2 separate regions of the Homo sapiens genome follow, and region 1 is linked to region 2. A link means that fine-mapping ties the variant in region 2 to the expression of a gene that starts in the linked region. Tissue or cell type: whole blood. Region 2 holds a variant in brackets; the other region holds the start of a gene. All regions are shown on one strand. Distances are between the middles of the regions. Region 1 holds the start of ATXN10 (ataxin 10). Region 2 overlaps ATXN10 (ataxin 10).

Region 1 (16,084 bases), 19 kb before region 2:
ACTGATTGACTTGACAAAGCTCATTTCACAAAAAACCGTTCTGGCTTTTACAGACTGTTCTCAATGGATTTCCCTTCTTTCCTGTCAATGGATTTTCTTTCTTTGCTGGCCTTTGACTTTCTGTGATCTTGGCTGCTGGGAAGTATAAGGCAGAGGAAGTCCTTAGGCAGGAGATAAACCTGGGCCTGTTCCTACAGAGGTGGTCTTTTGAGAGTCCTGGGGTCACTAGTTGGGACAGCAGAAGGCAAAAGTCCCAGGTAGTGTTATGATGGTTTGGAGCAGAGCCATGTCATGAATATTTTAATTTTTTATTTTAAACCCTATGAGACATTGTTGCTTTATGATTGTTTTGTACTTTGGATGTTCATTTAGATGAAGCGGATGGTAAATACCATTCTCAGTCTTCTTTATTCCTTTCTGTGTCTCTCATCTTCCATCTGGGATTGTTTTTGTCTCTAATTCACACTCTTTTGTATTTCCTTTACCATGGATCTGTTGGCAGTTATTTTTATTTTTCAGCACATCCAAGATAGCATTCCACTATTTTGGTTTCCAGTGTTTCTGTGGAGGATACAGCTTACTGAATCCTCACTCCTTTAAAAATAAACTGTCTTTTTATTCCCCTGTGGCTTCTTATCAGATTTTGTCTTTGTCTTTTTGCATAACTTCACTAGATGTGAATATATGGTGTGTTTATATTTAGATGTCTTTTCGTGTATTCTGCTTTCTATTCATTGAGCTTCTTGAATCTGTGGTTTGGAATCTTTCATCAGTTTTGGCAGATTCTCAGCTATTCTCCTAGGTATTGCCTCTGTTACAATTACATGTGTTAGACTTTCTCAACTTATTTTCTGCATCTCTTAGCTCTTCTGTATTTTTTGTATTTTAATTTCTTCATTCTGGATAGTTTCTTTCTAAATCTTCCAGTTCATTTATTCTCTCTTTAGGTCTCTCTAACCTGTTTTAATCCCATCAATTGAGTTGTTACTGTGTTATTTCTAATTTCAGTTCCAGAATTTCTATTTATTTATTATATAAATACACTATTTCACTTTTTATAGTTCAATACCTTGCTTGGACTTTTGAACTATTTCTTTTTTCTTTTTTGAGATGGAGTCTCACTCTGTTGCCCAGGCTAGAGTGCAGTGGCGTGGTCTCGGCTCACTGCAACCTCTGCCTCCTGGGTTCAAGTAATTCTCCTGCCTCAGCCTCCCAAGTAGCTGGGATTACAGGTGCATGCCACCGCGCCCGGCTAATTTTTTGTATTTTTAGTAGGGACGGGGTTTCACCATGTTGGCCAGGCTGGTCTCAAATTCCTGACCTCATGATCTGCCCACCTCAGCCTCCCAAAGTGCTGGGATTACAGGCGTGAGCCACTGCGCCTGGCCGAATTATTTCTTTGAACATAGTAAACCTGTTGTGTCATTGCCATGTTCCATTCCAATAGCTTAAGTTTTTGTGGATCAGTTTCTGTTGTATGTTGCTTCTGCTGGTTCTTATAATTTCTGGTTTCCCTGTAGAGTGAGTTATTTTTGTGTTGTTCACTCTATTTGAGAAGTATTTGTAGAAATAATTTGATGCTTAGGATGGCACATTCTTCCAAAGATGGTTTTCATTTGCTTCTGTCATGTGTCTAAATGTGCCACCATTCTGGGTCTGTCTTAATCCCAATTCAGGTGTTTTGGTTCCTTGGATCAACCAGGTGACAAAGAGGTTTTTGAAATATTTCATTTGGGTTTAAAATAAAAGTTTTTCTCATTCAGAGGATAGCTTTAAATAACTTGGCGTGACATTACCAGAAGTGAAGCTTTTTCTGTTTTATGAAGCTTCTTGTATAAGGCAGGGATTACATCTTTTCTCCATGTTTGGTAGAACCATATATAAAGTCAGCTGGTTTGAGGCTATATTTTGGTGCTTCATTTTCTGGAATGTATTTCCACCTTTGTTTGTCTAGTGCTCATACAATTATTTAAGATTCAGCTTACATGGTTTCTCTAGTTGTATTTCTTCATCTCTCCAGCTTCTTAGCTCTTTATACATCTTTTTTCTGACATGATTTATTATGCTATCTTATCAGTATATATTTCTGTTTTCCTTTAATAGACTCAGAGGTTATTCATGACTAAGGTATTATATTATTCATCTTCATAAGACTAGGTTCTAATATAGTCCATGATAGATGCTCAAATCTTCTGGTTAAATTGAAATATGAAAAATAAAATGTAAAATGGATTGGTAACAATCATAAGGAATAGCTTAATAACTTTACAAATTACATAAAAATAATTGATCCCCACAAGGCAACTATTACTAACATCAGAATCATCACCTCAAATACCGGTAGTCTATTGTCAGTCACTTATTACCAATTATATCTTGACCGTACTCACGATTTCCTACGTGTTTCCTACTGTTTCTCATTTGCCCAACTACCTAACAGCTTTTGATCTCCTTGCCCACTTCGTTCTTTCTACTTTCTCACTTTTACACCACACAGTTCGCTGTTAACACGTATTGAACTAAGCTAAATATATGACAGACTCTGAATTGACTATCATCAAATCTTCCCAACAATTTAATTAAATAGGTGCTATTACTATTCCATTTTACAAATGAAAAAAAAAAGGCTTAAAGAGATGGTTACTTGTCCAAGTTCAGGTGCTAAGAGATAAAAGAGGGATTCACATCACCCAGGTCTGTCTGACTCCAGAGCTCATGTTCTTTACCAGAAGTTGGCAAACCTTTTCTAAAAAGAACCATATAGTTAATATTTTAGGCTTTGGAGGCCATACAGTCTCTGTAGCAACAAGTCAATTCTGCCACTTTAGTGCCAAAATAGCCACAGAGAATATGTAAATGAATGACTATGACAGTTTCTAACACAATTTTATTTACGAAAATAGGTGGCGGGAAGAGTTTGGCTCATAGGTGATAGTGTGCCAATCCCTGCTCTGAACAAGTACACTACTCTGTTATTTTTTTCTCCTTTTTCTCAATCTCCAGAGTTTTCCATTCAACAGATATTGATAGCATTGCTTCTAAGCACAGGGCTGGGATGAAGATGAGAAAATCCCTGCCTTGAGGGACCTCAGATGTGGAAGAGGAGGGCATAAACACACATCTATAGCACAGGCTGACTATGGAAAGTCAGTGCCAAAAGAGAGGCACAGGCTGACCAGAGATTCTTCTGAAGAACACATGAGATCTTGTGGAGTTGGTGATATATGACAAAAGCTTTCTAGCAAGAGCATCGTAGGCAGAGATGCTAAGAAGGATGTTTCCAACAGAAAAGCCAGCAGAAGCACACATTTTTCTATCCACTTGTCACTTATCTTCTACTCAGTCTCTCTTTTTTTTTTTTTTTTTTTGAGACAGAGTCTCGCTCTGTTGTCCAGGCTGGAGTGCAGTGGTGTGATCTCAGCTCACTGCAAGCTCCGCCTCCCAGGTACACACCGTTCTCCTGCCTCAGCCTCCCGAGTAGCTGGGACTACAGGTGCCCACCACCATGCCTGGCTAATTTTTTGTATTTTTAGTAAAGACGGGTTTCACCTTGTTAGCCAGGATGGTCTCGATCTCCTGACCTCATGATCCACCCGCCCTGGCCTCCGAAAGTGCTGGGATTACAGGTGTGAGCCACCGCACCCGGCCTCATCTTCTATTCTCTTTACCAGTATTCACTTACTTCCTCTTTCTTTTCCTTGCCAAAATCATATGCACTTTGGTCCAAATCTGTTTTTGCCTTGCACCTCATCTACTTTCTTCTCTGATTTTCTTTTTTGCCTTCCTTCCTTTTCTTTTCTTTGTATTTACTTCCTTCTTGATTACTGAGTCATTGCTGATTCAATTCTTCTGCAGTGGGCTCAAGGTACAAATTTATATCACAAATTTCATTTGAAGTCGAATTCACGTACATCAACATGGTGGCATGTTCATCTGGTTTGTCTAAGTCAAACAGCTATATAACATTAACAATGTCATTTAGCCCTAGTGAAATATTAACTTGGTTCTGTCAATTCAGTCAAGGTTGAAATCCTCTAGTCGATTTTGGGCAGTCAATAACATCCACTGTTTGACCAGTTTAATTTCCTTTCGTTTCTCTTATGCGTATTTCTACTTTTTGTCTGTCCTGTTAATCTCTCTGTTTTAATCTTTTCCCTTATAATTTTTCTTCTTTTTCCATCAGCCTCCTTTTCTGTACTTTTTGGATTATTGCACTTCTTCTAGAGGCATGCTATCTCCTTTCTCCTTTCTGCAGATATATATATATATATATATATATATGTATATTTATTTATTTATTTATTTAGAGATGGAGTCTTGCTCTGTCACCCAGGCTGGAGTGTAATGGCGTGCTCTCAGCTCACTGCAACCTCTGCCTCCCAGGCTCAAGTGATTCTCCTGCCTCAGCGTCCTGAGTAGCTGGGATTACAGGTGCCTGCCACCATGCCTGGCTAATTTTTTTCTGTATTTTTAGTAGAGATGGGGGTTTCACCATGTTGGCCAGGCTGGTCTCAAACTGCTGACCTCAGGCGATCTGCCTGCCTCCGCCTCCCAAAGTGCTGGGATTACAACCGTAAGCAGGCATGAGCCACCGCGTCCGGCCTCTGCTGATATAGTTAAAAAGATTCTTTGTTCATTAATTCAACTTTTATTGAGCAATTACCACATAGTAGGTCTTTTTCTAGGTGCTGGGCTGGAGATACAAAAATAACCAAAAGAGACAAAAATCTCTACCCTTGTAGAGCTTACATTCTAGTAGTAAGTGAAATAGATAAGCAACAATAAACAAAATAGAAAAGTAAGTTATATATCAAGTATTAAGTGCTATGCGGAAAATTCCTGGGGATCAGGAATTTGGGTAGCCTGTTACAATTTTAAATAGATTGATCAGGAAGGTTGTTAAAAGATCATTTGAACAGGTAGTTGAAGGAAATAAGGAAGCAAGTCATGGAGATGTTTGTGAGGAGTTGTTCTATACAAAAACAAAAACAAAAACACCAGCATATACAAACTCCTAAGGCAGGAGAGTTCTTTTCCTGGTGGAGTTATGGGATTTAAAAAAAAAAAAGGAAAAACAAAACTTTATCTGAGGAATATGATCTCCTTTAAATGATCGGGCCTAGAGAAGCATTGGAATGAAACACCAATCATGTCTCTCCTCCTTGAGCTGAATACTTACCTCTTTTCAAAAGGAATTATTACTATTTTTTAAAGACAGGGTCTCTCTCTATTACCCAGGCTGGACTGCAGTGGTGTGGTAATAGCTCACTGAGGCCTTCAACTCCTAGGCTCAATGAATCCTCCCATTTCAGCCTCTGGAGTAGCTGGGACTATTGCCATGTACCACCATGCCTAATTTTTTAAAAATTTTTTCGTAGAGATGGGGGGTCTCACACTATGTTGTGCAGGCTGGTCTCAGACTCCTGGGCTCAAGCAATCCTCCTGCCTCAGCCACCCAAAGCACTGAGACTACAGGCATGAGCCACCATGCCTGGCCTAATTACCTCTTGAAGCCACATTCTATTTGGCCTCTAGACGAACTGATGTCAACTAGCTACACAATGGCATACAATCTATAGTTCAACATTGTACAGCCAATCATTAACCAACATTATTTCTTAAACCAATGAGAATTCATGACAAACAACCTTTTAAATCACCCTCTCTCCTGATTCGTCCTTTTTTCTTTAAAAAGTTGAGCTTCTCTTTCGTTCTCCAGAGCACTCCCCAAGGCAACTTGGATGTGTGTCCTGGACTGCAATGCTCACGTTGGCCCAAATAAACTCTTTATATTGATTTTACCTCAGCTTATTCCTTTTAAATAGACAGAGGACAATAAGGAGGTCAGTATGGCTGAAGCACAATGGAAGAGGAAGAGGCTAGTAGATGTGATTAGAGCCCACAGGGGCTGGAGGTGATGGCGAAGGAGGAGGCAGGTCATTTAGGGGCTTTTCTATTGGAAGAACTTGGCTTTTACTCTGAGTGAAATGGAAATCCCTTAGAGGGTTTTGGGCAGAGTTAAATGTTGAAATATTTTTTAAACGATCTAAAACGTAAGGAAGCAAGAGCAGAGGCCAAAAGACCAATCAGGAATATATTACAATATTCCAGGCAAGAAGTATGAATATTATAGGGAATGTTTTTCTGGGAATGTTACATTTGAGAATAAGAAAACTAAAGGCCAGGTTTTTTTGTTTGTTTGTTTGAGACAGAGTCTCCCTCTGTTGCCCAGGCTGGAATGCAGTGGTATGATCTCAGCTCAGTGCAACGTGTGCCTTCCAGGTTCAAGCAATTCCCTTGTCTCAGCCTCCCAAATGGCTGGGACTACAGGCACCCGCCACCATGCCTGGCTAATTTTTAGTAGAAAGGGGGTTTTGCCATGTTGGCCAGACTGATCTTGAACTCCTGACCTCAAGTGATCTGCCCGCCTCGGCCTCCCAAAGTGCTGGGATTACAGGCATGAGCCACCGTGTCTGGCCTAAAGATCAGGATTTTGGTGCATAACAAGTACATTTTACTATCCTGTGCTCCTCAAGGGAAAATTAAGAGATTTTTGCCCTGTTAGCTTAAGGAGTGTTAAACATTTTGCATTGTCTTGAGCACTGCTACTAATAAGTGATCTAATACCTGGCACATAGTACACCGCAATATTCGTGGAATGAATAAATACATACTCAATTAAATGGGTAAACTGAATGACAATATCAAGTAACTTGCTTGTGCAGCAGCATTCATTTCCCTCCCTCCTTTTTTTTTTTTTTTTTTTTTTTTTTTGATACAGGGTATCATTCTGCCACCCAGGCTGGAGTGCAGTGGTGTGATCACAGCTCACTGCAGCCTCGACCTCCTGGGCTCAAGTAATCCTCCTGCCTTGGCCACCCAAAGTGCTGGGATTACAGGCATGAGCCACCATGCCCCACCAGGATTCACTTTTTCTGCATACTCTGGTGGTGTTTATTGTTATCTTTACATTTTATTTAGCAAAGAATGTTAAAAGCGCCATGTTATAAGCACACTCCTACCCTCCAAGCAGAATGTAAAGGGTATGTATTTATATATTTTAAGTGGTCCCACAGCAATTTGTACAGTTATAGCAGTTCACAACTATACTCAGTTATGTTTGCTTCTCTCCTTCTCAATAGTCTGTGAGGTTCCTTCAGGTTTGGAACTGTCTTTTATTAATCTTTACATCTCCAGCACCTAGCGCAGGGCTTAGCAACAATTTTTGTTGAAAGTATATACACTGTAATAAAGGGCAGTGGAAAGAAAATATGTGAGTTATCAACACCAGCTAGAGAAGCCTTGTCTGATTCCTGTGAAATATATTCATTTCCCTTAGGAAAAAAAACAATTCTAACCCTATTGCTGTGTAACTTAGCTTCTTGACTTCGAACGGTATTTTAAGGCTTTGAGGAGCTGGAGCAATGTATACTCACTAGAGGCAAAGTGCCTGGTAAGTGGTCTGGTATTGATCAGCAATGATCAGTAAGTACTGGGAAGTGCGTTTTCAGGGCCTGAGACTTGCAAGCTAGTGACAGACCGCTCCAGCTTCCAGTGGACCCGGGCGGGGGCACTGATCAACCCACTTGAGCAGTGGGATCAAGGTCTTCAGCCTTAGCAGTGGGAGCCTCTGCCCGGCCCCCTTCGTTCCCGAGACCCTCAGTCAGCGTCTCCTCCCAAGAGGGTCCCCTCCACCCAGAATGTCCTCCCCTGGGGGAGACCACTCTGTCTGCGGGCCCCCTCCCACAGGAGGGCCCCTCTTCCTCAAGGTGAACCTCTGTCCCCGATACCCGCTCCCAAGACCGAGACCTTGTTACGGCCCCACCCTCCACAGGCCCCTTACCCCCCGGATCCCCTCCCCTGGGGGAGACCCCTCTGTCCGCGGGCACCCTCCTATAGGACGCGCCCCTCTTTCTCAGGGTGAACCTCTGGTTCCCGATACCCGCTCCCAAGACCGAGACCCTGTTACGGCCACATCAACACAGGTCCCCCTCCCCCCGGCGTCCCCTCCCCTCGGAGGAGCCCCGTCTGCGACGCTTCCCAGTCAATCACCCCCAGCATCCCTCCCCGCTCTCACCCAGAACTTCCGCCGCGCCCCCTCCCCTCAGGCGGGACTTCCGCCGGCGCCCCCTCCCCCGCGGCGCCGTCTCCTCCTCCCGCCTGAGGCGAGTCTGGGCTCAGCCTAGAGCTCTCCGGCGGCGGCGCAGCTTCAGGGCAGCGCGGGCTGCAGCGGCGGCGGCGGTTAGGGCTGTGTAGGGCGAGGCCTCCCCCTTCCTCCTCGCCATCCTACTCCTCCCTCCTCGTCATCCTCCCCCTTCGTCCTCCTCGCCTTCCTCCTCCTCGTCAGGCTCGACCCAGCTGTGAGCGGCAAGATGGCGGCGCCCAGGCCGCCGCCTGCCAGGCTGTCGGGCGTCATGGTGCCGGCGCCCATCCAAGACCTGGAGGCCCTGCGCGCGCTCACGGCGCTCTTCAAAGAGCAGCGGAACCGGTAACGGGTCCGGCCGGGGGGCTGCCCCGGGCAGGGGAGGGCGGCCGGGACTCCCGCGGCGGCCCCGGCCTGGACCCAGGCGCCGCCCCCGCCTCGCTGGAGACGCGGAGGGCGAGGCCTGCGCGGGCTGCCTGAGCGCCACCCAGGCCTCCCGACTCCCAGGCACCGCCTCGTGCTCGTGGGTCCCCGCGGGGCCTGGGGCGGGCGCCCCGCTCCCCCACCGCAGCCAGTCCGGGTGCGAAGCCGCGATCCCGGGAGCCCTTGCCGCGGCGTGCCGGTGATGTTGACCCAACACACGGTTAGGCCTCCCCTGTCATGTGCGAGGGCTGCGCCAGGCCCTGGCTGCAAGACCCACGCGGCCCCCAGAGTCATAAAGCGTGTGTTTTAGCGGGAGAGACCCGTGTTACGGACGCGGGAATTGGGCAGTTGCGGGGATGGCAGTCTCTAGGCATGGAGTGGGACTGGCACTCCTTTCTCCTCGGCGTTAGAGCCCAGGCTGCACCATCTGCCCTGGGGGCAGCGCTCTGTGCAGTGTGGAAGAGCACGGGCCTGGAGAGACCAGTCCAGTCCTGATGCCACTGAGGGGCAAGATAGCCAGGCAAAAAGAGAAGGTGCCCAGGAGTCGACAGTTGTGGATTTGGTTCCTGGCCTTGCAAGCTGCGTGTTACTGTGCAGTTTCTCCAGGCCTTAGAATTCTTGTCTAAAAATGGGACTATAATACACAGCTTAGTTGCTGGATTGTACAGAGGAATAAATGAAATAAAGTACGTGAAAATATAAAATGTGCGAAGCCCTCAGTCAATGCTTGTTTGATCTTGTTCTGTCCTCTGGGCCTCAGTTTTCTTGTCTATTTAATGGGAGTAAAGTTGAACAGTACCTCCCTGGTGATAGTGTCATAAGGAGTAAATGAGATATAATGCATATTAAATCCTTAGGACATACCTGTACATAGCACTAAATGTAGCTGATATTATCACTTAACACATTGATTGGTAGTTACCCATGTATCAGCTATTGTGCTAGGTGATGGGGTAGGAAAATGGAAAGTCCTTGCTCTCTCCTGTACTAGTATGTACAAGATAACACAGCTGTGGGGGTATGTATGTACAAAGCAGAGGGAACATTGAAGAAAGAAATACTGAGACTTGGGTCAGCCTAGGTGATCACTAGAGGACTTCCTCTCTTTAAACTAGACACCTGGTCTGAGCACTTCCTTTACCTCACATCACTTTGGGAAATGTGGAGCTGCTGAAGGAATGCTATTAATAAAAGTCCCTGGTACTGCTCTATGGGCCTTTGGGGGAGATGTATTTATTGATTTAATGCTTAGGCATTTCTGTATCATGATGGACCCTCCTTTTAGTTAATAACCCAGTCATCAACCATTTATTGAGCACCTACTATGAAACAGATTTTTTTGTTGGGGTCTGAGGGTACAGAGAGGAATGATGTGAGTGATCCCTTTTATCAGGCATATTTGGGAAATAGCTAAATAAACACATTGTAATGGAAATCTATACAAGAGGTGGTGGCACAGGGGAGCATGTGGATATGTTGGAAGATTGGCGAGCCAGGAGAGGCTTTTTAAGGTTATTTCAGGTGCTCGGTTATAGATGAGAGGACTAGAGGGAACAGTGTCTGCAAAGGGGCCATATGTTAATTTTGCAAAACCGATGAGACAATTAAGTAACATAGATAAGGTTTCTCGTACAGAAGAGACATTTAGTCAGACATCAGTTCCCTTTTTATAACTTGGAGAAAATCCAAGCCCCTGAGCCAGTTTAGAAGGCCCTTCTTGACTCTATCTCTTGTGAGGGAAGAAGTTACAGAGAACCATTGATGGTTTTTGTCAAGGGAGTGGCGCGATAAGATCTGCCTGTTAGATCTTCCTGGCCGCCTCCGCCTCCATTGTGGGGAATAAATGAGAGGACGAAGCTAGAGACAGGGGGGACCTTTAAGGAGTGGTAGCGGAAGCCCATGTGAAAGAGAAAAGTGCCTAAATTAGGACATTGTGGGGATGAGTAGAATAAATACTGAGAGATACAAGGTTGAATGGACAGGACTCGGACCAGTTGGATTGTGGGGGGGAGAATGAGGAAATGAGGATGCTTCCCAGATTTCATCTGAGTTCTGGGACAGTGTCCTTGTTCCAGGCAGAGATTGGAGACCAGGAAAGGTGAACTGATGTGCAGGTCCTGGCATGGAAAGACACAGTTGTGTGGTGGTGCAGAGAACTCATGATCAGGGTTTATAAGGACAGGCTTCTGGTCCTGGTTCTGTCACTGCTTCTCTTTGTCTTTGGACAAATTATAAGGGTCTTGTGGGGCTGGGCCCAGACTCCTGCTCCTCTGAGAGGATCCCTCCAGTTCTGATGCTCAGGGAGCCAGTGTTTGTCCTTGGGGGTCTCCTCTTCAGAGAGGACATAGGGCTGTTGTCTAGTATGAACAGGAACACAGATGGATCCAGGGGGAGGATGGGCCAAGGTGTTAGAAGGTGGACGAGACAAAAAGCCAGGCAAAATGAGTCCTCAGTGTAGCAAATAGAAAACAGCAGACAAAAAGCAAAAACAGTGAGGAAAGTAATTAAGAGATTCTTCTCTTTTGGTGGAATACATTATTTCTCTAGGATTCCATTTTATATTTGAAGAATCATAGACATAATGTAGTTGGTGGTCCTTCTGAGCTCTTCCATGCTACAAAACAAACTTCTGTCAGTGGTAGCTTGAGTAATAGAAGTGTCATGCAGTGGGAAGAGCAGTGGCTTTGGAACCATGGAGACCTGGATGTGAATCCTGGTTTAGTTTGTGAGGCTTCTTGTTTCTTTCCTTGAAAACGGGATGATGGTAGCCACTTTGACAGATTATTTTGAGGATCTGTAATATTATATGTGTAGCATAGTGGTTTATGCATAGTAAATGCCATTTATTTAGGACCTGTTATTAAAATATAACAAGGTTGTAAGTGACCAAGAATCCATTTGTGTTGAATCTCCTGTCTTATCAGAAACAAAAATTGCAGCTATTTCAGGAAGACAGTTCTAATTTTGGGGTTTCCGGAGAAGGGGATCTCAGGATCTCATTACAATTTTAGCAGCCCCCAAGTGAAAAGAAATTCTTACATCCCATTGTGGGAATTTTAAATATGTCCACAAATTCTTTGATACTCTGACCTTCTCAAGAGGAGGAGGTTAATTCTTTTCTCCTTGAGTGTGGGCTGAACTTAGTGACTTGCTCCTGAAGAGTAGAATATGGTAGAAGTGACAGTGTGCGACTTCTCAGACTAGGTCATAAAAAGCATCGTAGTTTCCTCTTTGCTAGCTCTTTCTTGAATCACCCACTCTGACAAAGCCAGCTGCCATGTCATGAGGACACTCAAGCATCCATATGCAGAGAGCTGTGTGGTGAGGAGCTGAGGCCTCCTTTGAACAGCCATGTGATGAACTACCTTGGAAGCAGGTCCTCTGAGCTCCAGTCACATCCTCAGCCACGTGTGCAACCTCATGAGACACCCTAAGCCTCTCAGATCTGTGTGAGATCATAAATGTTATTGTTTTAAAATGCTAAATTTTGGGCTAATTTGCTATGTAGCAATACATCATTAATACACCAGTCTTAATTCTCCATGCTGTGTATTAAATGCATTCTGTAACCCACTTCTTAAACAGTGTCTTGGTCACTAAAATAATTTAAACATATTGCTTATGGTCATATAATATCAGTATTGAGATATTCCTCAGCTGTTTCTTCTCTGTGTAAGATAATTCTTTTTTCTCACATTTGTTTTATACTTTTTGTTTAATGTAGATATCACCGTATTTCACATTTGTTTAACAAGTGATTTATCTTGCTGTGAGTCTTTGCAAGTCATGTTAAATTCTTTCTGAACAAGTAAGACAAACATTTAAAATTCTATTTTAGTTGCTCCTTTAATTATTTTTCTTTTTTTTTTCCGAGACAGGGCCTCACTTTGTCATCCAGGTTGGAGTGCATTTTTTCTAGAGAAGGGGGTCTCACTATGTTGCCCAGGCTGGTCTCGAACTCCTGGCCTCAAGTGATCCTCCTGCCTCGGCCTCCCAAAGTGTTGGGATTACAGGCATGAGCCACCGTACCTGGCTAGTTGCCTTTATGATGCATCCATGAGGCATCTCCAGACCCCACAAAGTGTAGAGCCAGGTGAGATGGGTTGTCATACTCCATCTGTGCTGTTCATTAAGTAGCCACTAGCTACATGTAGCTACTTAATTAATTGAAAATAAGTAAAATTAATGTTTCATTTCCTTAGTTGCATTAGCCATATTTTTTAATTTGTTTTTTTTTTTTTGAGACAGTTTCACTCTTGTTGCCCAGGTTGGAGTGCAGTGGTGTGATCTTGGCTCACTGCAACCTTCGCCTCCCGGGTTCAAGCGATTCACCTGCCTCAGCTTCCCGAGTAGTTGGAATTACAGGCATACGCCACCACACCTGGCTAATTTTGTATTTTTAATAGAGACGGGGTTTCTCCACGTTGGTCAGGTTGGTCTTGAACTCCCGACCTCAGGTGATCCGCCTGCCTTGGCCTCCCAAAGTGCTGGGATTACAGGCATGAGCCACCGTGCCCTGCCCTTTATTACTATTTTTTTAGAGACAGGGTCTCACTCTGTTGCCCAAGCTGGAGTGCAGTGGCACGATCATAGTTCACTGCATCCTCGACTTCCTGGGCTCAAGCAATCCTCCTGCCTCCTTCCCCAGTAGCTGGGACTACAGGTGTACACCACCATGCCCAGATAATTTTTTTGTTTATTTTTTGTAGAGATGGGGTCTCGCCATGTTGCCCAGGCTGGCATTAGCCATATTTTAAGTGCTCATTGGCCACATGTGATGTGACAGCACAGATATAGAATATTTCCATCATCACAGAAAGTTCTGGAAATAGTGCTCTTCTGTAGTAAGTTTTCTATAGGGGAGATTGTATTTTGACTCTTGAGTATTCTTGAAATAATGGAACATTTGGATGCTGCTTTCTATAAATTCATCTCATACTTAAACTGATACCTCATTGGTCTTCCACCTGATGAGCTTCTTGAATGAAGTGGGCACATCACATTCACTGTATGCCTGGCATCTAGCATAGAGTTGATAGTGGCAGATGCTTATCAGTTTCTTGTGGAGTTGCTGCTATTTCTATAACTTATTACTCATTGCACTTGCTTGGTCTTTTTCTTAGTCGTGTAGACAGTAATTTTTTTTTTCAGCTTCTATCAGTATAGCTCATTTTTTCTCTTCAATCTGCTTAGACAAAATGAGGTTTTCGTTGGTGTTTAATTTAAAAATTAAAAAAAAATTCAGGCCAAAAGGTCTTAAAAAAAAAAAAAAGAAAAGGCAAGTCCTGGACTTAGAGAAGTATTTAAAATATATATGATAAAGAAGTTGTTTCAGAATATATGAAGTACTCCTACCTACAACTCAATAAAAAAGACTCCTACAACTCAATTTAAAAATTGGGCAAAATCTGTGCTTTACAAAGAAAAATAAAGGCCAATAAGCGTATGATAAAGTGCTCCAAATCACTAGTTATTAGGGAAATGCAGTTAAAACTTCAGTGAGAGACTACTGCATGCCGTTTAGGATGGCTATTATCCAAAAAATGGAAAAGAACAAGTATCGTTGAGGATGTGGGGAAATGGGAACCCTTGTGTGTTGCTAGTGGACATGTAAAGTGGTGCTGCTACTATGGAAAATAATTTGGTGGGTCCTCAAAAAGCTAAACATGGAATATGACCAAGCAGTTTTACTCTTAGGTATGTGCCCGAAGAAAATGAAAAAGGACAAATTCTGTATGATTCTGCTTTTATGAAGTACCTAGAACAGACAAACTTGTAGAGACAGAAAGTAGATTAGAGGTTACTAGGATTTGGAGAGAGGGGAAATTGGGAGTTACTGCTTCATGTTTACAGAGTTTCTATTTGGGTGTTAAAAAAAATTTTGGAAGTAGAGGTGATAGTTGTACAACATTGTGAATATAATTAAAGCCATTGAACTGTAGACTTAAAATGAACAACATGGCAAATTTTATGTTATATATATGTATTTTACCACAGTTAAAAAAATTAATAATACAATGTACCAAAATCCATTTAATTGTACGCTTTAAGTGGGTGACTTTAGTGTGCCACGTGAACCCTATCTCAATAGTGCTGTTATAAACAAATCCATAGTAAGGTGCCTCTGCATCCCTATTAGAATGGCTATAATGAAAATGAGTGACACTGAATTTTGGTGGGCATGTGAAGCTATATATTTATGATTTTTAAAAAGTCACATTGTTTGGAGTAGAGGGGATGTGTTTAAAATGTGAACTCCTCCCTCACTGCTATTTTTGTTTCATAATAAAATAGCCTTTTATGTATCTTTTTCCCTACTCAGTAGTGCCTTTCTTGAAGGGAGGGACTTTATGGTGTTTCTTAGCAGGGTGCCTGGCCCATTTTGGGTACTCTGTAAATGTTGAACTGAACTGAATAGAGCAATGAAGAGCCAGTAGCTCCAGTGAGCCAATCAGTAATTACTCAAATTGCTAAAATGCTATTGATTAGTTTACCATGTAATTCATTCATTGACTCACACCACACATGATACATGTAAGATCTGTGCTTAGTGCTGCAGCTGTGATTGATAGGATAAAATTAACTATGTGTAGCTTACTTTGAACTACTGACATAGGAGTAGCTCACATGCTATTAAATTATTAAATTTAATACATTTGTAATTTGCTAAAAATGTATATTTGTAATTTATATTTACAAAATAAATTTGTAAATTTGTAAATATAAATGTCTTAAGCCTTCATTCCTTTGCTTATACACACTCTTCATTTTCCCTCAAGGTTGAGTTACCATTTCACTTCCTTTTGAAAGCCGTTTCTGACCTTCAGGTGCTTTTGCCCTGTATTCCCTTGGCACTCTGTGCTTACCTCTTTCAAAGAACTTCACATAATCACTTAATTACCTACCAGTCTCACTAGAGTGAGAGCAGCCCGAGGCCAGGACTCTTATTTACCTCTGTTTTCAGTACCAACTTTCAGGCCTACCACATAATGAGCATCCAATAGTATTTTTATTATTTTCTTGAACACCTGATTTTCTTGAGCCATGAGAGAGAAAATGAGAGCATACAAGAAAGACTTTAATTAGGAGGGGACAGGAAACGTTAAATATGACAGATGACTGATTTCAAGGGGTAAAAAATGACTTGGTATTGTTACTTGGTTGTATAAATATGTTGACTAACCTTCATAAAGAAAGTGAATAGATTAAGCACTTTAGAGGTCAACATACCACAGAGGTAAAAAATAAACCTATCCATCTGTGTATACACACGCACATGGATTTTCCCCGGACATTACTGAGCCTCTGGGCAGCAAGTGTCTTTAACTACACCAAAACACACAAAAACCCAAAAAACAAAAACCCACACGAGTCGTCAGCTTGGCTGAGGACGCCATATGGCGTTTTGACTCAACCATGATTCAGCTCAACTTTGTTGAGAGAGAACATCAATTAAGTTACACTATAAAAAGCATATTTTAGAGTGTGCTGGCAATTTCCTTTATTTTTACCTATGCC
Region 2 (16,084 bases):
TCTTACCATGTTGCCCAGTCTGGTCTTGAACTCCTGGCCTCAGGTGATCCACCCACCTTGGCCTCCCAAAGTGCTGGGATTACAGGCATGAGCCACTGCACCTGGCTTAGCTAGATTTTTCTCCTGAATGCTAGACTTGTTTATTCACCTGACTACTTCACATTCTACTTGTATTTCTACTGATCCTCTCATCCACCAGATATCCTCAGAGTACTCTTGTTTCTGTAAACAATAAATACATCTTTCAATTTATGGCTCAGGCTAAAGTTTTGATGTCATCCTTCACTCCCCTTTTTTAGACACCCTCATAAGAATCCATCATCAAGTCCTATTGGCTCTATCTTTAAAATATCCAGAATTTGATTTCTGTTTACCGTATCTGCTGCTTTCCCTCTGCTCCAAAAACAGCCCCCTAACTGGTCTCCTGCTGTCGTCTCTTTCTCCCTTTAAGATTGATTCTTTACAAAGCAGCCAAAGAGATCCTTTTAACATGTAAGTCAGATGATGTCACCCCTCTGCTCAGAACCTTCCATGGGCCGGGCACGGTGGCTCACGCCTGTCATCCCAGCACTTTGGGAGGCCAAGGCAGGTGGATCACCTGAGGCCAGGAGTTTGAGACCAGCCTGGCCAACATGGTGAAACCCCATCTCTACTAAAAATACAAAAATTTGTTGGGCATGGTGGCACATGCCTGAAATTCTACCTACTTGGGAGGCTGAGGCATGAGAATTGCTTGAACTTGGGAGGCGGGGGTTGCAGTGAGCTGAGATCCTGCCTCTGCACTCCAGCCTGGGCAACAGAGCAAAACTCTGTCTCAAAAACAAAACGAAAAAAAGAACCTTCCATGGCTTCACATCAGGATAAAAGCCAGCGTCCTTCCGTGGCCTACTGTGCCTGTCCAGGGTGGCTCTGTCTTGTCTCTCTGAGTCGCACTTCTCTTTTCTCACTGGGGTTCATTGAAGCCAGCCCTGACTTCCCTGTGACGTGCTCTGTATGCCTTTGCCTCTAGTCCAAGCTCTTCTCCCAGCAAGATGCATAGTTGGCTCCCTCACCTTCTTTGGATCTGTGCTTAAATACTACTTTTAAAATAAGGTTTAAATAATATCTTATGTACAAAATCTTTCTCTAAGCATGTAAAGACATTCTCCTTATATTTTCTTCCAAAGCCTTGCAATTTTGTCTTCCATGTAATTCCTAAATCCACCTGGAGTTACTTTTTGGGTAGTGTAAGTAAGGATCCAATTCAGTTTTTTTCTTTTTAGATTAACAGTTGTTACAGCACCTCTTCGAGCACAGTCCATCTTCCCCAGGTCTTTAATGCTATTGATAGATGCCATTTACCAAGTTACCATGTATACACAGTTCTGCTCTTGGGCTGTCTTTTCCAGTGGTTGACTTTCTGCCTCTGTGCTAATTTCACCTTTTCTTAGCTTCTCTTTCATTTTCTTCTCTTTTCATGTTTTCTTAGAGACAAGGTCTCGCTGTGTCACCCAGGCCTGAGTGCAGTGTTGTGATCATAGCTCACCATAGCCTTGAACTCCTGGGTTCAAGCAGTCCTTCTGCATCAGGCTCCCAAGTAGCTGGGACTACGAGGCACAGACCATCAAGCCCAGCTAATTAAAACAAGTTTTTTTGTTTTTTTTTTTTTTGTAGAGATAGGGTCTTGCTATGTTAGGCAGGTCTTGAACTCTCCTGGCTTCTGCCTCTCAAAGCACTGGAATTATAGGCATATGAACCACTGCGCCTGGCCGCCTTAGTTCCTTTCATTTAGCACAGTGCGTTTGTTCTGATGAAAGATGAATTTTCAATGTGATGAGGACAGTGGGAAAGAGGAAGTGTGTGGTTTTTGGGGAGTGGGGAGAGGACTGGTATGTTTGGAGCCCTTTAAAGCAGGGGTTGCCAGACCATGGCCAGATCTGGCCTACTACCTGTTTTTTTTATGACCCATGAGTTAAGAATGGTTTTTTACGTTTCTAAATGGTTGGGGAGATGATAAAGTTTCATGACACATGAAAATTATATGAATTTAAATTTTAGTTTCCACAAACAGTTTCATTAGAGCCCAGCCATGTTCACTTGTTTAGGTGTTTCCTGTGGCTGCGTTTGTGCACTGGGGGAGTTGAGAGTGTGACAGAGGCTGTTTGGCCATCAGAGCTGGAAATATTCACTCTCTGACCCTTTACAGAAAAAGTTTGTGACCCTGCAAAATGGATTGGTCTGGGTTGTCAGGACGGCTTCGGAATCCTGGATGTGACAGAAGAGGAGAGAAGAGTGTGAAAAGAAGTTTTGAGTTCTGCGCAGATTTCAAAATTTTACCCTAGGCTGTTTGTGGCAGGAGATACAGATGTTTTTATTTTCTGTTTTTGTTCAATCCTGCCCAGTCAAATCAGCAAGATTATGGTTTTAGATAACAACCAGTGATTGTTGTTTTAATCTGTGAACTTGTGTGGATTTTAATAGTTTTTCTCACTGGCAGTTGTTAAACTACTCTAAACCACATATGCCAGTTTTTAAGTAAATCTAAGGTATTAGAATAAATCTTTTAACAAGTATGAAGGTCTTAGTTGTAGCATTACAATGACTAGCATGTAGCTTTTTTTTTTTTTTCAGTAGGAGGTCCCACCTGATGATTGAACTGTAAAATGTGTGTGCATACAGTATATTAGACCTATCTAACCTGTTACATATAATCACAGGTAGTTTTCTTTAATTTTACTCAAACAGAACTTGCCAAGATTAAACCCTACAGATCTGTTCAAACTTGAGGGAAATGAAATTCTACCTTTTGTATAATTCAAAGGATTTTTTTGGTTCTGTAATGTAACATTTCATTTATACATTGTCTTCAGGGTATGCATTCCTTTGTAATAGGAATGTCTAACGGTTGAATTTTAATTGTCCTTGTAAGTACTTTCCGCCTTCTGTGAATGAAGTAGCTAAGCTTTTTAAAGTCGCTGTACATTTTTTGTTAGTTTGGTTAAAGCAGAAATGACAGCAGTTATTATTAATAACTTTTGTAATATTGGAGTGATTGATCTTTACTATTTCATTGTCGTTAATCATTACACATATTTAGCTGCATTGTCTTGACAGTGAACGTAGATTTTGCAGACAAGAGTATACTAGGACTATTCTGGATCTGTAATGCCAAATAGTTTTCTTTCAAGGCTGTAGAGAAGGTAAAGATGTATAGAAGAGTTAAATGCTTTCATAGTATTTACTGTTACTGAATAAAAGCTTCTTTGTCCTCATCTGATGAAAGTTGTTGACATATTATATTGTATAAAAATATGGTGAATAGAAGCTATAGATATTTATTATATGACTCTAGAGGAAGAGTTTTACTGACACCATTTATAAAAGGAAACACATCTAAAACATGTTCTTTGCTCTTAAGAAATTTAAAATACAGTTAATTGGGTTATAACTCCTCCCAGACCCTCAAGCTTATCCACTGTATCATTTAATGGGAAAGGAGAAATTCGATGTTTGCTTAACAGCAGTCATAAAATATCTATATGATATTCACATCTTAAAATCTGACACGTTTTTAAGTTTCTGAGTAGAGATTATATGGATTTCTTAATGGGAAAGGGAGGGTTGAGCTGATGCCTCACTTTCCCCTTTCTGTTGCTGACTCAAAGGGTACTGATTTCACTGCCTATGTCAGGCTTGATTCCTGGCTCTGAGCACAAGCTCTGTAAGTGCTTGGATTACATAGCAAGGCTGTGATGCAGTCAGGGGCCACTTTTGAGTGTGCAAACAGTCTCATCACTGTTTAAAACTTGAACAAATTCAATTAATGGGTGCCAATTCTGGGCCCTAGAGATACAGAAAAGAATAAGATAGTCTCCATTTTTCAAGGACTTAACAGTCTAGCCGGGGAGATAGGTTATATAAATCTTATCTGATGTGGACAAGTTATTCCAGTCTTATGAACAGATCTCCAGGGCTTCATAGAGGGAGTCTGTTTGTCTGGAAAAGTGGAGGAGTTTCTCCAGGTCTGAGTTTCCCAAAGGTTTGAAAGGAGATGCAGGCCAGGCGCAGTGGCTCACGCATGTAATCCCAACACTCTGGGAGGCCGAGGCGGGCAGATCACGAGGTCAGGAGACCGAGACCAGCCTGACCAAAATGGTGAAACCCTGTCTCTACTAAAATACAAAAAAATTAGCCGGGCGTGGTGGCATGCACCTGTAGTCCCAGCTACTCAGGAGGCTGAGGCAGAAGAATCACTTGAACCCAGGAGGTGGAGGTTGCAGTGAGCTGAGATCACGCTACTGCACTCCAGCCTGGGCAACAGAGCAAGACTCCATCTCAAAAAAAAAAAAAAAAAGGAGATGTAAGTTTCTCCCAGGCAGAGGATTGGGAGATTTGGAGAGGACTTTCTTCTGGTGGTGAGATATGTTTGAGCAAAGACAGAAGATTGGCGAAATCGGGGGTTTTCAGGAATCCATGGTTTACAACCTGGGGAGAGCATATGACAGTGATCACAGCTCCACATTATTTTTTCTTTATACTGCAAACGCGAATTATTGTGTGCCAAATAGATGCTGTCATGATTACTCTTTAGTCGCTATTAATAGTTATTTGGATTTCAGGAATGTTTTGGTTGGCCTTAGCTCAGTTAAATGCTTTTCATTTGGTTAAAATTATTATAAGGGCATGGTGCATATATAACAAATTACCATGTAGCATTGGGAATTATTCACAACATAGTTCATGAACTTAGTATTTATTCTATGGTCGGGAAATCATTTTTCCCATTTTCTTTAAGAATATTGCTTTTCTTCTGTCTTGTTTAGTCTGTACCATAGTTTGATTCCAAAGCTTTTGCTGTGCTAGATACCAATTTTGAGTAAAACAGATGTTACGATTGCAAGGAATGACTTCAGGGAAGACCATTCACGGGGGAAAGGTGGTTCCCATATAAGAGGCAGACGGCAAAGGATCAGGTGAAAGAAATAATTCTCGCTGCTTTCTTACAGCTGTAAATACACATTCTTAGTCATCTCAGTAGGAAAAGAGAGGCGTTATTGAAGCTTATTCAAGTTGCAGAGCTCTACTTTTACTTGACTATAGCATTAAATAATAAATGGCTTCAAAACTTCATGCAGATGGGGCAAATAGAGGTGATTAGTTTTGTTCTTTGTCCTAGAAATTGTGATCAGCCTTAGCATTCTTCATAGTGTTTTAAACTCCTGGTTATTTTCTTAGCTGATGAGTGTCTACAATATATTTGGTACTCCTTAAAGCTACCTTAAGAATGTTAGTGAATCGGCCAGGTGCAGTGGCTCACACCTGTAATCCCAGCACTTTGGGAGGCCGAGGTAGGCAGATCACGAGATCGGGAGTTCGAGACCAGCCTGGCTAATGGTGAAACCCTGTCTCTACTAAAAATACAAAAATTAGCCGGGCGTGGTGGCGTGTGCCTGTAGTCCCAGCTACTCGGGAGGCTGAGGCAGAAGAATTGCTTGAACCCAGGAGGCAGAGGTTGCAGTGAGCCAAGATTGCACCACTGCAACTCCAGCCTGGGCGACAGAGCAAAACTCCGTCTCAAAAAAAAGAGTGTTAGTGAGTATTCTTCCATTCTTCTTACGGCAATGCTGTCACTAAAAAATGGCTTATGTACTTGTTTCATACAGTTTATTGAGGCAAGATTAGTGCTGTACCCTTGAATTTTCATTTCTTAATTTGGTCACTCAGTTGCCGAGACACTGAGTCAAAGTTTCATTATTTACACTCAGGGCTGACTGGGGGAGACATAGACAAATTATTTTATGTGCAGTTTCCCAGTTTTTAATTAATTTATACTCTGCCTCTTTCAAAACCAAGTTTGAGATACCTTAAAAAATAAATACGAGAAAAAGATAAGGGGGGAAATTAGGGGTAGTGGAAAAGCCAGATAGAAAAAGTAAGGATTCATGTTGTTTGGGTCATAAATTTGACTCCAGACTTAAGAAAGGCCCCGACAGAGAGAAAACATAATAAATAATGTGAGTTCTATTGTCTGTTCGTAAGATAAAAACACACATCACTTGGTGTATAAGAAGCCATGGTACTGAAGTTCAAGGAAAGACGTGTTTCCTCTGCCCCCGGAAAAGGGGCTTCCATAGGTGTCTTCTGCGGCAACTGAGCAGCTCTGTAACCTGGGCAGCTCAGTGTCCAGAGTTCTGAATGAACATGTGGCTCCCTGCTGGTCTGGCTCAATCCAAGGGTGAAAGGTAGGGCACTGTGAATCTACAGCGAGAGCAGAAGGAGAAAATTCATATGGTCTGAATCATTTGGCATTTATAGAATCTCTTAAATTGTCCAATGTGGCAACTTTCCTTCTAACGTTAAAAGAGATTTGCTGTTTCTTTAGGGGATTTATGGAATGAGGAAGTTGGCTTGCATTTAGGTGCAATGTTGCACAAAAAATTCTTATCTTTAGAGCTCTGGAATGATAGCCAGTGCAGGCAGTACTCCTGGCATGAGAGGCACGCAGAGACTGAGATGCCCAGAGGGTACAACCACAGGTTCATCTTTCTCCCTGGGCATACATTCTTGGTGGAAGAACAGGCACACTTTACATTCTCCCCCTCTCCTTTCTCTCCCATCTATGTAGTTGACTGTAGAAGTTTGGTGTGTGTGTTGTCAGCCTCACTGTGTCTACAGAGTAGATAGTATCCTTGTCCTACAGGAATATTGTTTCTTATAACTGAACTTAGCTACATATTGGGTGACAGAGGACCAGAATATATTCTCTGTCTAGAACATTAAATAAAGATACTCTGTTCTGATTCAGGGTAGATCCATAAGCATGAGCAGTCACTGGAACTGGGATTTGGGTTGTCATGGGTAGTGGAAGTGCTCAGGCCAGAGTGCTTCACTTGGCCTTGTGTCTCTGCCAGTTACTGGCTGAGTGATTTGTGCAAGTTACTTACCATCTCTACTTCACTTACCTTATCTGTAAATGGAGAGGACAGTGTTGGCCTCATAAGGCTGTTGCAGAGACTGAGATAATACATGAGAAGTGACAAGAACAGTGTCTGGTGCATAGTAAGTGCTCAATATGTGTAGATCTTTTATTTGGTGTTGTAAATTAAGGAGCTAAAGCAGATAAACGTAGCGTACCTCCCCACAATAGTAGATAAAAGCAGTTTTCTGAATAGGACATTTGGAAATCATAATCTTTTTTTTCTGATTCGTGATAATTTTATCCTTTTTCAGAGAAACAGCACCCAGGACTATCTTCCAAAGAGTTCTGGATATCCTAAAGAAATCTTCTCATGCTGTTGAGCTTGCCTGCAGAGATCCATCCCAAGTGGAAAACCTGGCTTCCAGTCTGCAGTTAATAACAGAATGCTTCAGGTGTCTTCGCAATGCTTGCATAGAGTGTTCTGTGAACCAGAATTCAATCAGGTAGTTACACACGTACCTTGGATTCTGTTTCTTTGTATATGTGCATGCTGGTTCTGTCATTTGGTTTATCTGTTAGAAGTTGTTTTGGGCTGGGTAAGGTGGCTCATGCCTGTAATCCCAGCATTTTGGGAGGCTGAGGCAGGAGGATTGCTTGAGTCCAGGAGTTCAAGACCGGCCTGGGCAACATGGTGAGACCCTGTCTCTACAAAAAAAATACAAAAAATTAGCTGGACATGGTGGCGCACACCTGTAGTCCCAACTGCTCAGGAGACTGAGGTGGGAGGATTGCTTGGGCCAGGGAGAGGCAGAGGTTGCAGTAATCTGAGATGATGCCATTGCTGCAGGCTGGGCCACATTGTGAGACCCTGTCTCAGGGAAAAAAAAAAAAAAAAAGTTGTTCTGGCATGATAGTATCACCCACTGTTATTGCAGGATTGCCCTTTACATCTGCTGGGAGAGGCCCTCTACAGGCCTTGCCATTGGAGTCTCTCTGACTAGTGTATAAAATAATGGAGTGTGTTTAACATTAGGGGTTAGATTTCTTGTTTGTTTTTATCACATGTTTTGAGGTATTTGGTTCTTCATAGTGTTTTGAAGCTGATTTTGAGTCTTTGTTCCTAGATTTTACCTGCCTAAGTTTATATGCAGTTCTTGACCTCAGGTTGTAAATGTTTTAATTACTTTTAATGTTTTAATTTGTTACTCTTGTGTTTGGACAAGAAGCATATTTTGTAAATTTACAAGATGACCTGTCTTTCCTAAAGATCATGTAAAGTTCCAAGCTCTGCTTCCACCTATTTTATGATGCGCACATTTTTAAAAGTAGTTAAAACATGAGCAGGCGAGCTGTCCAGTGCTCTTCTTTGCTTTTACGTGTTACCGTCTCCTCCCAGAACACAGCATCTTTCTTCTTTGATTTTGTGGAACCTGCTTTTTATTAAAAATTTTTACTTGAAGTCAGAAGCCACAAACAGGATGCTCACTTTCCTTCCTGGACTTGGATGTAGACAGAGCCTCCAGGCTTCCCTGTCACCACTGTGACGGGTAAGCTTGGGCTGGTCCAGAAGCCACTTGAGGGACTCCCTTCGGTTAGACACATATACCCGAGGCTTTGATATGATTAATGAGATTTTTAAGATCAAAGGAGAGAGGGTAAAAAGTGAGTCGTGTAACTTCAATACTAAACCAAACCTGCCATCCATTTGAGGATAAATGGATAGAAACAACAATAATCTTGATAATAATAGTCTACATTCTAAAACATAACTAGTTATATGCTAGAAGCATCTGGCCAGAAGGCTAGTTTCTTTTGTCCTTTTCCAGTCACAAGGTGCTCTAGTGTGATGGGGAAGGAAAGGAGAGCCGTAGAACTAACTTTTGACTGTGGCTGGCAGATACACCTTTGTGCTTGGCTAATCTTGGTGGGGAAGGGAGTGAGCATTCGTTGAGCCTGCCTTCGGCATTGGGCTTTGTCCCAAGGGTTTTGCTTGTAGTATCTTCTTTAATTCTTAGAACAAACTCAAGAAATTTTTTCATTTTTACAAAAGATGAAACTGTAACTTGGAGAGGTTAAATAACTTGTCTGAGAGTCACTTGTTAAGTGAGAGAGGCTGGGAACATTCTCTCCATATCCAGACATCTGACTCTAAAGCTTAAGCTTAACAAGCAGTCTGCCCTTACTGTTCTGAGCTTAAGCTCAAAAGCAGTCTGGGCCAGGCGCGGTGGCTCACGCCTGTAATCCCAACACTTTGGGAGGCCGAGGCGGGTGAATCATGAGGTCAGGAGTTCGAGACCAGCCTGGCCAGCATGGTGAAACCCTGTCTCTACTAAAAATAAAAAATTAGCTGGGTGTGGTGGCACACACCTGTAGTCCCAGCTACTCTGGAGGCTGAGGCAGGAGAATCACTTGAACGGGGAAAGCGGAGGTTGCAGTGAGCCAAGATTGGGCTACTGCACTTCAGCCTGGGCAACAGAGTGAGACTCCGTCTCAAAAAAAAAAATGCAGTCTACCCTTGCTGTCCTGAGCCTTACACACTGGTCTTGTTGTGGATGACTGCTCCATCTTGACCCTGGACAGGTGACTTGGTCTTCCTGAGTATCAGTTTTGTCCTCTGTAAAACTAGGTAAGCAATGTCTTCCAAACAGGCTGGTTATGGGGTGTAAATGAGATTACTTATGTAAATGCCTAATGCACATTGTGTGCTCAGTAAACATTAAATGTTTCTGCCTCTGCCTCAGGAATGAATGTACAACACAAGTTTATGTTAATACTTTCTTTCAAAGCAGTCAATTTTTATTTTCTTTTTTGAGTAATATATGCAAACTATAAAAATTC[T/A]AACATTACAAAAATAAATACTATGACAAGTAAGTTATCGGTGGTCTTTTGGTAGGGCCAGCAAAGCAAGGGCTGTGCTGTTTGTGATATCTTTTTATTGCATGCAACTTATGGTTGGGCGGAAATGAAAATGAACATTTAAGGGTGTTAATTTTTCTGCCTCTTCCCTTCTAGGATTGTATTATTATTCACTGTTGATTTTTAAAGGAAAATTTCAACCATTTAGGGCAGCAATTTTCAGAAAAGAATTTTCTAGTTAGAAATACTACAAAGATTCTAGTAAAGACTTTGTGGCCAAGCTTAACTAAGGCCAGTATTTCTGAGCCAGTCAAGATTCAGATTGCAACTAGTACATATTTTTCTGATGTTTTACTTTAAGTCGTTAAAGAGTTCATCAAAAGGTGTGATGCTATTAAAGCCTAGATCTTTTTACATCTTTTGCACTTTGTGTGGACTGGGACTGTTTTTGCCAAGAATGCATGGAATGGGGTAAAATACAATAAAGCAAAGAATCTGAGTCATGGGAAACTTCAGGAAGTACTCAAAGAAAGCTGTTGGAAGCAGTTAGCTCTGCATGTAAATATAACCTCTACTGCTAGGGTTGCTATATTTTTCCTGTAAAGAGCCAGATAATAAATAATTTAGGCTTTGTAATCTCTGTCAGATTTCTCAGCTCTCCCATTGTAGTGCAAAAACAGCCATAGACAATATATGAATGAATGAACATGTCTAATTTTGTCTTTTTTAAAAAACCCAGGAACTTGGATACGATTGGTGTTGCTGTTGATTTGATTCTTCTGTTTCGTGAACTGCGAGTGGAACAGGAATCTCTGTTGACAGGTAGCATGCAATATAATTCATGGATTATTTATATCTTTATAAAGGGTTCAAAACCAGTACTTTGAGTATTAACATCATTCATTGAAACACATGTTCTGTATTTCATGAGATAGGGAAACTTTAATAGTGAATTATTAAAGAATTATAAAGTTGTATCAACTTCCCTTCCTGAATGGCTGAATTTTGTTCCTTTCACATTTGTATGTTGAAGTCTGTCTGTTCCAGTTGCTATAACAAAATGCCTTAGGCTGGGTAGTTTATAAACAACAGAAATGTATTGCTTACAGTTCTGGAGGCTGGAAAGTCCAAGATTAAGGTACCAGCAGATTGGGTGTTTTGCGGGGGCTGCTCTCGTCTTCATAGATGGTGCCTCTTGCTTTGTTCTCCTGTGGTGGAAGGTGGAAGGCAGAAGGCATAAACAAGCTCTCTGGGCCCCTTTTATAAGGGCACTAATCCCATTCACGAGGGCTGCACCATCATGACCTAGTCACTTCCCAAAGGCCCCATCTTATACTAGCAAGTTGGGGATTAGATTTCAGCATAGGAATTTCGGAGGGGCACAGATATTCAGATCATAGCATGGTCCTAACCCCCAATACCCAGAATGTGACTGAATTTGGAGATAGGATCTTTAAAGAGGTAATTAAGGTAAAATGAGGGTATATGACTGGTATCCTTATAGGAAGAGGAAATTAGGACATGGCCATGCTCAGAGTAGAGACCATGTGAAGACACAGGGAGAAGATGACCATCTACAGGCCAAGGAGCGAGACCTCAGAAGAAATCAGCCCTCTCGACACCTTGATCTTGGACCTCCAGCCACCAGAACTGTGTAAAAATAAATGTCTGTTGTTTAAGCCATTCAGTCTGTGGTAAGACTTTTAATATTTATGAATGTGACAGGCCCTGGTCCAGGTTTTGGGTGTGATTCAAACAGTGACCAAAACAGACAAAAAGTGTCTGTCCTTAGAGAACTCACATTCCGTTGAGGGGAACCACATGTTAAGTGTCTAAGTCAAGTATCTAGTGTGATGAAAATGGAACTTAGCTCTGATTGTTAACGGTTGTTGACTTGGGATTAAGAGAAACACCACACTTCTTTAGACTCATTAGTAGAATGGTTTTGGTCTTTGTTCTTCTAGCATCAACATCTTTCCTTTGGACAGTGGTTATTATCTTAACATAATGTTTAAAAAAAAAACGTAGATTTTTAATTTATGATCTCTTTGTGCCAGGAATTGAAATACTTTATGGGTAAACCTAAATTATTTGATAAAAAAATCTTAATGTAGGCTGGGTGCCGTGGCTCATGCCTGTAATTCTAGCACTTGGAGAGGCCAAGGTGGACAGATTGCTTGAGCTCAGGTGTTTGAGACCAGCCTGGGTAACATGGTGAAACCCCGTTTCCAAAAAAATACAAAGGCTGGGTGCAGTGGCTCAAGCCTGTAATCCCAGCACTTTGGGAGGCTGAGGCGGGCGGATCATTTGAGGTCAGGAGTTCAAGACCAGCCTGGCCAACATGGTGAAACCCCCTCTCTACTAAAAATACAAAAATTAGCTGGGTGTGATGGCGCATGCTTGTGATCCCAGCTACTCAGGAGGCTGAGGCAGGAGAGTTGATTGAACCTAGGAGATGGAGGTTGTAGTGAGCCGAGATCGTGCCATTGCACTCCAGCCTGGGTGACAAGAGTGAAATTCTGTCTCGAAAAAAAAAAGAACCGGGCATGGTGGCACACGCCTGTAGTCGCAGCTACTTGGAGGCTGAGGTAGGAAGATTGCTTGAGCCTGGGAGGTGGAAGTTGCAGTGAGCTGAGATCACGCCGCTGCACTCCAGCCTGGGTGACAGAGCAAGACTCTGTCTCAAAAAAAAAAAAAAAAAAAAAAAAAACAAAACCCCAGAAAATTTTAATGTAAATTTCCAGGTGGATAAGTTAGATGTACTAAATTATAGGTTAAATTTTGTTGTTGTTGGCTGGGCGCAGTGGCTCACGCCTGTAATCCCAGCACTTTGGGAGGCTGAAGTGGGCGGATCACGAGGTCAGGAGATCTACCTGGCTAACACGGTGAAACCCCGTCTCTAGTAAAAATACAAAAAATTAGCCGGGCATGGTGGTGGGCACCTGTAGTCCCAGCTACTGGGGAGGCTGAGGCAGGAGAATGGCATGCACCCAGGAGGCAGAGCTTGCAGTGAGCCGAGATTGCCGCCACTGAACTCCAGCCTGGGCGACAGAGCGAGACTCCACCTCAAAAAAAAAAAAAAAAATTGTCATTGTAATAACGTCTTTACCTTATAATTCAATGAATATAACCTTTAAATGAGAAGTCTCCAGTTGCATTTAAAATATTATTTGACTTACAAATTGTTTTATATACAGTTTTAATGCCTGTACTTTGCATATAACATGAGGCATATTTCTTTTTTTTTTTTTGAGATGGAGTCTTACTCTGTCGCCCAGGCTGGAGTGCAGTGGTGCGATATTGGCTCGCTGCAACCACCGCCTTCCCGCCGGGTTCAAGCGATTCTCCTGCCTCAGCCTCCCGAGTAGCTGGGATTACAGGCGCCTGCCGCCGCACTCGGCTGATTTTTTGTATTTTTTTATTAGAGATGGGGTTTCACCTTGGCCAGGCAGGTCTTGAACTCCTGACCTCATAATCTACCCACCTCGGCCTCTCAAAGTGCTGGGATTACAGGCATGAACCACCGCACCTGGCCACGTGAGGCATATTTCTATTGATGTTAATATGTGTGCTTCTCTTGGTAGATAGACAAGAACTAGAGGTGATGGTCTTTTTTCACAGGTGAAATAGGCTAAATTAGCGTGTTAGAGCACTGCCTGGTTTGGTTTAATTTCTGTGATTTCCTAGTGTTTTCATTTTAAACTCAGTTTGCTAGAAATTCTTGGATCTTGCTATTTGATTTTGAAGTATTCCTTTAGGAAATGGTAATTAAAAATTAATTACTTCCTTTAAGAATTTACAGACAAAGTGCATCACCATGTTTTTTTGAGCATCAGTTTTTAAAATAATCTCAAGAAATTGAAAGGATGTAGGATTTAGTTGTGAAATGTTTTTACGATATTATATATTTAAAGATACTTCTGTAGCTCTATTTTATAATAAAAGGGAAGCATCAGTACTCAAAATTGGGGAATTATAAATTAGCAGTAAAGTCCGTGTTTCACAGTGTCACTTGGAAGGGCAGCTATTTTGAGGTCTCTGTGTGGTATAGTAATTGAGAAAGAAAGTTGAGAATGTACTGTGTTTTATAATTGGTGATCCTGATGGGGCGGGCAGTGTGGCGCTCCAGAGCTGCTGTGCTGTGGTGGGCGGAAGGAGGTTTCTCTTTTAATGATATATGCTAAATAAAGAAGCAAAGGGGAAGTGCTGTACAAATGCTGTGATTAAATAACTATTAGAATGGAGCCAGCCCCTCCACCATGTGCTGGATTTCATCGCCACTTGCCCACGCAGAAGCTTTTCTCCTGAAATTATCCCCTTGCTCTCAGGCAGCCTCTGTTTTTTTCCTCTTTACTCCATCATTTTCATCAGCAAGTAATATGCCCTCCCATTTTTCATTTAAAAATATCTTCTTTTGACTCCATGTCCCCGTCAGTCCAGTATCTCGTTTTTCTGCTCTATCCCAAATGTGCTACAAAAGATGTATTTAGTTTTTACAATATATGGTAAAAGATTATTTCATCCTTCACAGGATTACTTTCCACTGAAGCAGGTAGATGACCTAAGAAAAAATTTAACGGAGCAGATATCTGAAACTACTTTTATGAACCAGTTTGTCATTGAGGAGTAAATTGGTTATTTGGTTGTTAGCTTGGCTATTCACTCATATTCACTAGGCAGAGAGGGCAGATTCTTACAGACCTGTTACATGTTAGCTGTATTAAATGTTGTTCTTAATTTAGGTAGTTGCATTTGTATGAGTTTAATTGTTTTTTATTGATGTGAGATTCACATATTGTTAACTATTTTAAAGTGAACAATCGAGTGGCATTTAGTACATCCACAGTATTATGCAACTACCATCTCTACCTAATTAAAAAAAAAATTTTTTTTTTTGAGACGGAGTTTGCTCTCGTTGCCCAGGCTGGAGTGCAGTGGCACAATCTCGGCTCACTACAGTCTCCGCCTCCCAGGTTCAAGCAATTCTCCTGCCTCAGCCTCTTGAGTAGTTGGGATTACAGGCACCCACCACCACGCCTGGCTAATTTTTGTATTTTTAGTAGAGATGGAGTTTCACCACATTGGCCAGGCTGGTCTCGAACTCCTGACTTCAGGTGAACCACCCACCTCGGCCTCCGAAAGTGCTGGAATTACAGGCGTGAGCCGCTGCGTCCGGCCTAAAAATCACCCTAAAAGGATACCGTTTTCATTGAGCAGCTGCTCTCTTTCCGCCTCCCTGTAGCCCCTGGCAACCACTACTTAGCATTCTGTCTCTGTAGATCTACCTACTCTGGATACTTCATATAAATGGAATCATAGAATTAATTATGTGACCTTTGGTGTCTTACTCCTTTCACTTAGCATAATGTTTTTATTTATTTATTTATTTTTTTGAGACAGAGTCTCGCTGTCGCCCAGGCTGGAGTGCAGTGGGGCGATCTCGGCTCACTGCAGGCTCCGCCCCCTGGGGTTCACGCCATTCTCCTGCCTCAGCCTCCCGCACAGCTGGGACTACAGGCGCCCGCCACCACGCCCAGCTAATTTTTTGTATTTTTAGTAGAGACGGGGTTTCACCGTGTTAGCCAGGATGGTCTCGATCTCCTGACCTTGTGATCCGCCCGCCTCGGCCTCCCAAAGTGTTGGGATTACAGGCGTGAGCCACCGCTCCTGGCCTTTAGCATAATGTTTTTAAGGTTCATCCACCTTGTAGTGTGTATCATTACTTCGTTCCTCTTTATGGTGGAATAATACTCCGTTGTTTTGATATATCACATTTTGTTTATCCATTCATTGTTTGTTGGACATTTAGGTTGTTTCCACCTTTTGTCTATCATGAGTCATGCTGTTGTGAACATGCTGGTACATCCAATTGTTTATCTGTTTTTATTTCTTTTGGGTGTATACCTAGGAATAGAATTGCTGGGTCATATGGTAACTCTGCTTACCATTTGAGGAGCTGTCAGACTTTTCCATAGCAGCTGAATCATATGACTTTTCACCGACACCATACGAATGTTCCCATTTCTTGCATCCTTGCTGACTCTTTCTTTCTGTGTTGTAGTCATCCTGGTGGGTGTGAAGTGGGGGTACTTCATTGTGGTTTTGATTTGCATTTCCTAAATGATCACGTACTTATTGGCCGTTTGTAAATCTTCTTTGGAGAAATGTCTATTTGAGTCCTTTGTCCAGTTTTCAATTGGGCTGTTTGTGTCTATTTCTTGTAGAGTTGTAAAGGTTTTCTATACATTGTAGATACTTGGGATAATATTGAATCTATAGATCAATTGGGGAAGAATTGCCATCTTAACACTATTGAGTTTTCAAGTTCAT

What was found.
Region 1: it holds the start of ATXN10, and the variant in region 2 is fine-mapped to the expression of ATXN10 in whole blood (INTERVAL, PIP above 0.99).

The regions. Positions count from the first base shown.
Region 1 is chr22:45,663,692-45,679,775 of GRCh38, forward strand. It overlaps ATXN10 (ataxin 10), which reads left to right and starts at 8,143. Exons shown (of 12, transcript NM_013236.4): 1 at 8,143-8,488. The coding sequence starts at 8,373. RefSeq lists silencers at 7,816-8,005, 8,066-8,115, 8,446-8,775.
Region 2 is chr22:45,682,503-45,698,586 of GRCh38, forward strand. ATXN10 (ataxin 10) reads left to right here. Exons shown (of 12, transcript NM_013236.4): 2 at 7,210-7,401; 3 at 10,494-10,576. Among named protein-coding and RNA genes, the nearest start is that of ATXN10, 19 kb to the left of the region's middle. RefSeq lists an enhancer at 13,920-14,019. The variant T/A (reference allele first, on the strand shown) is at 9,737.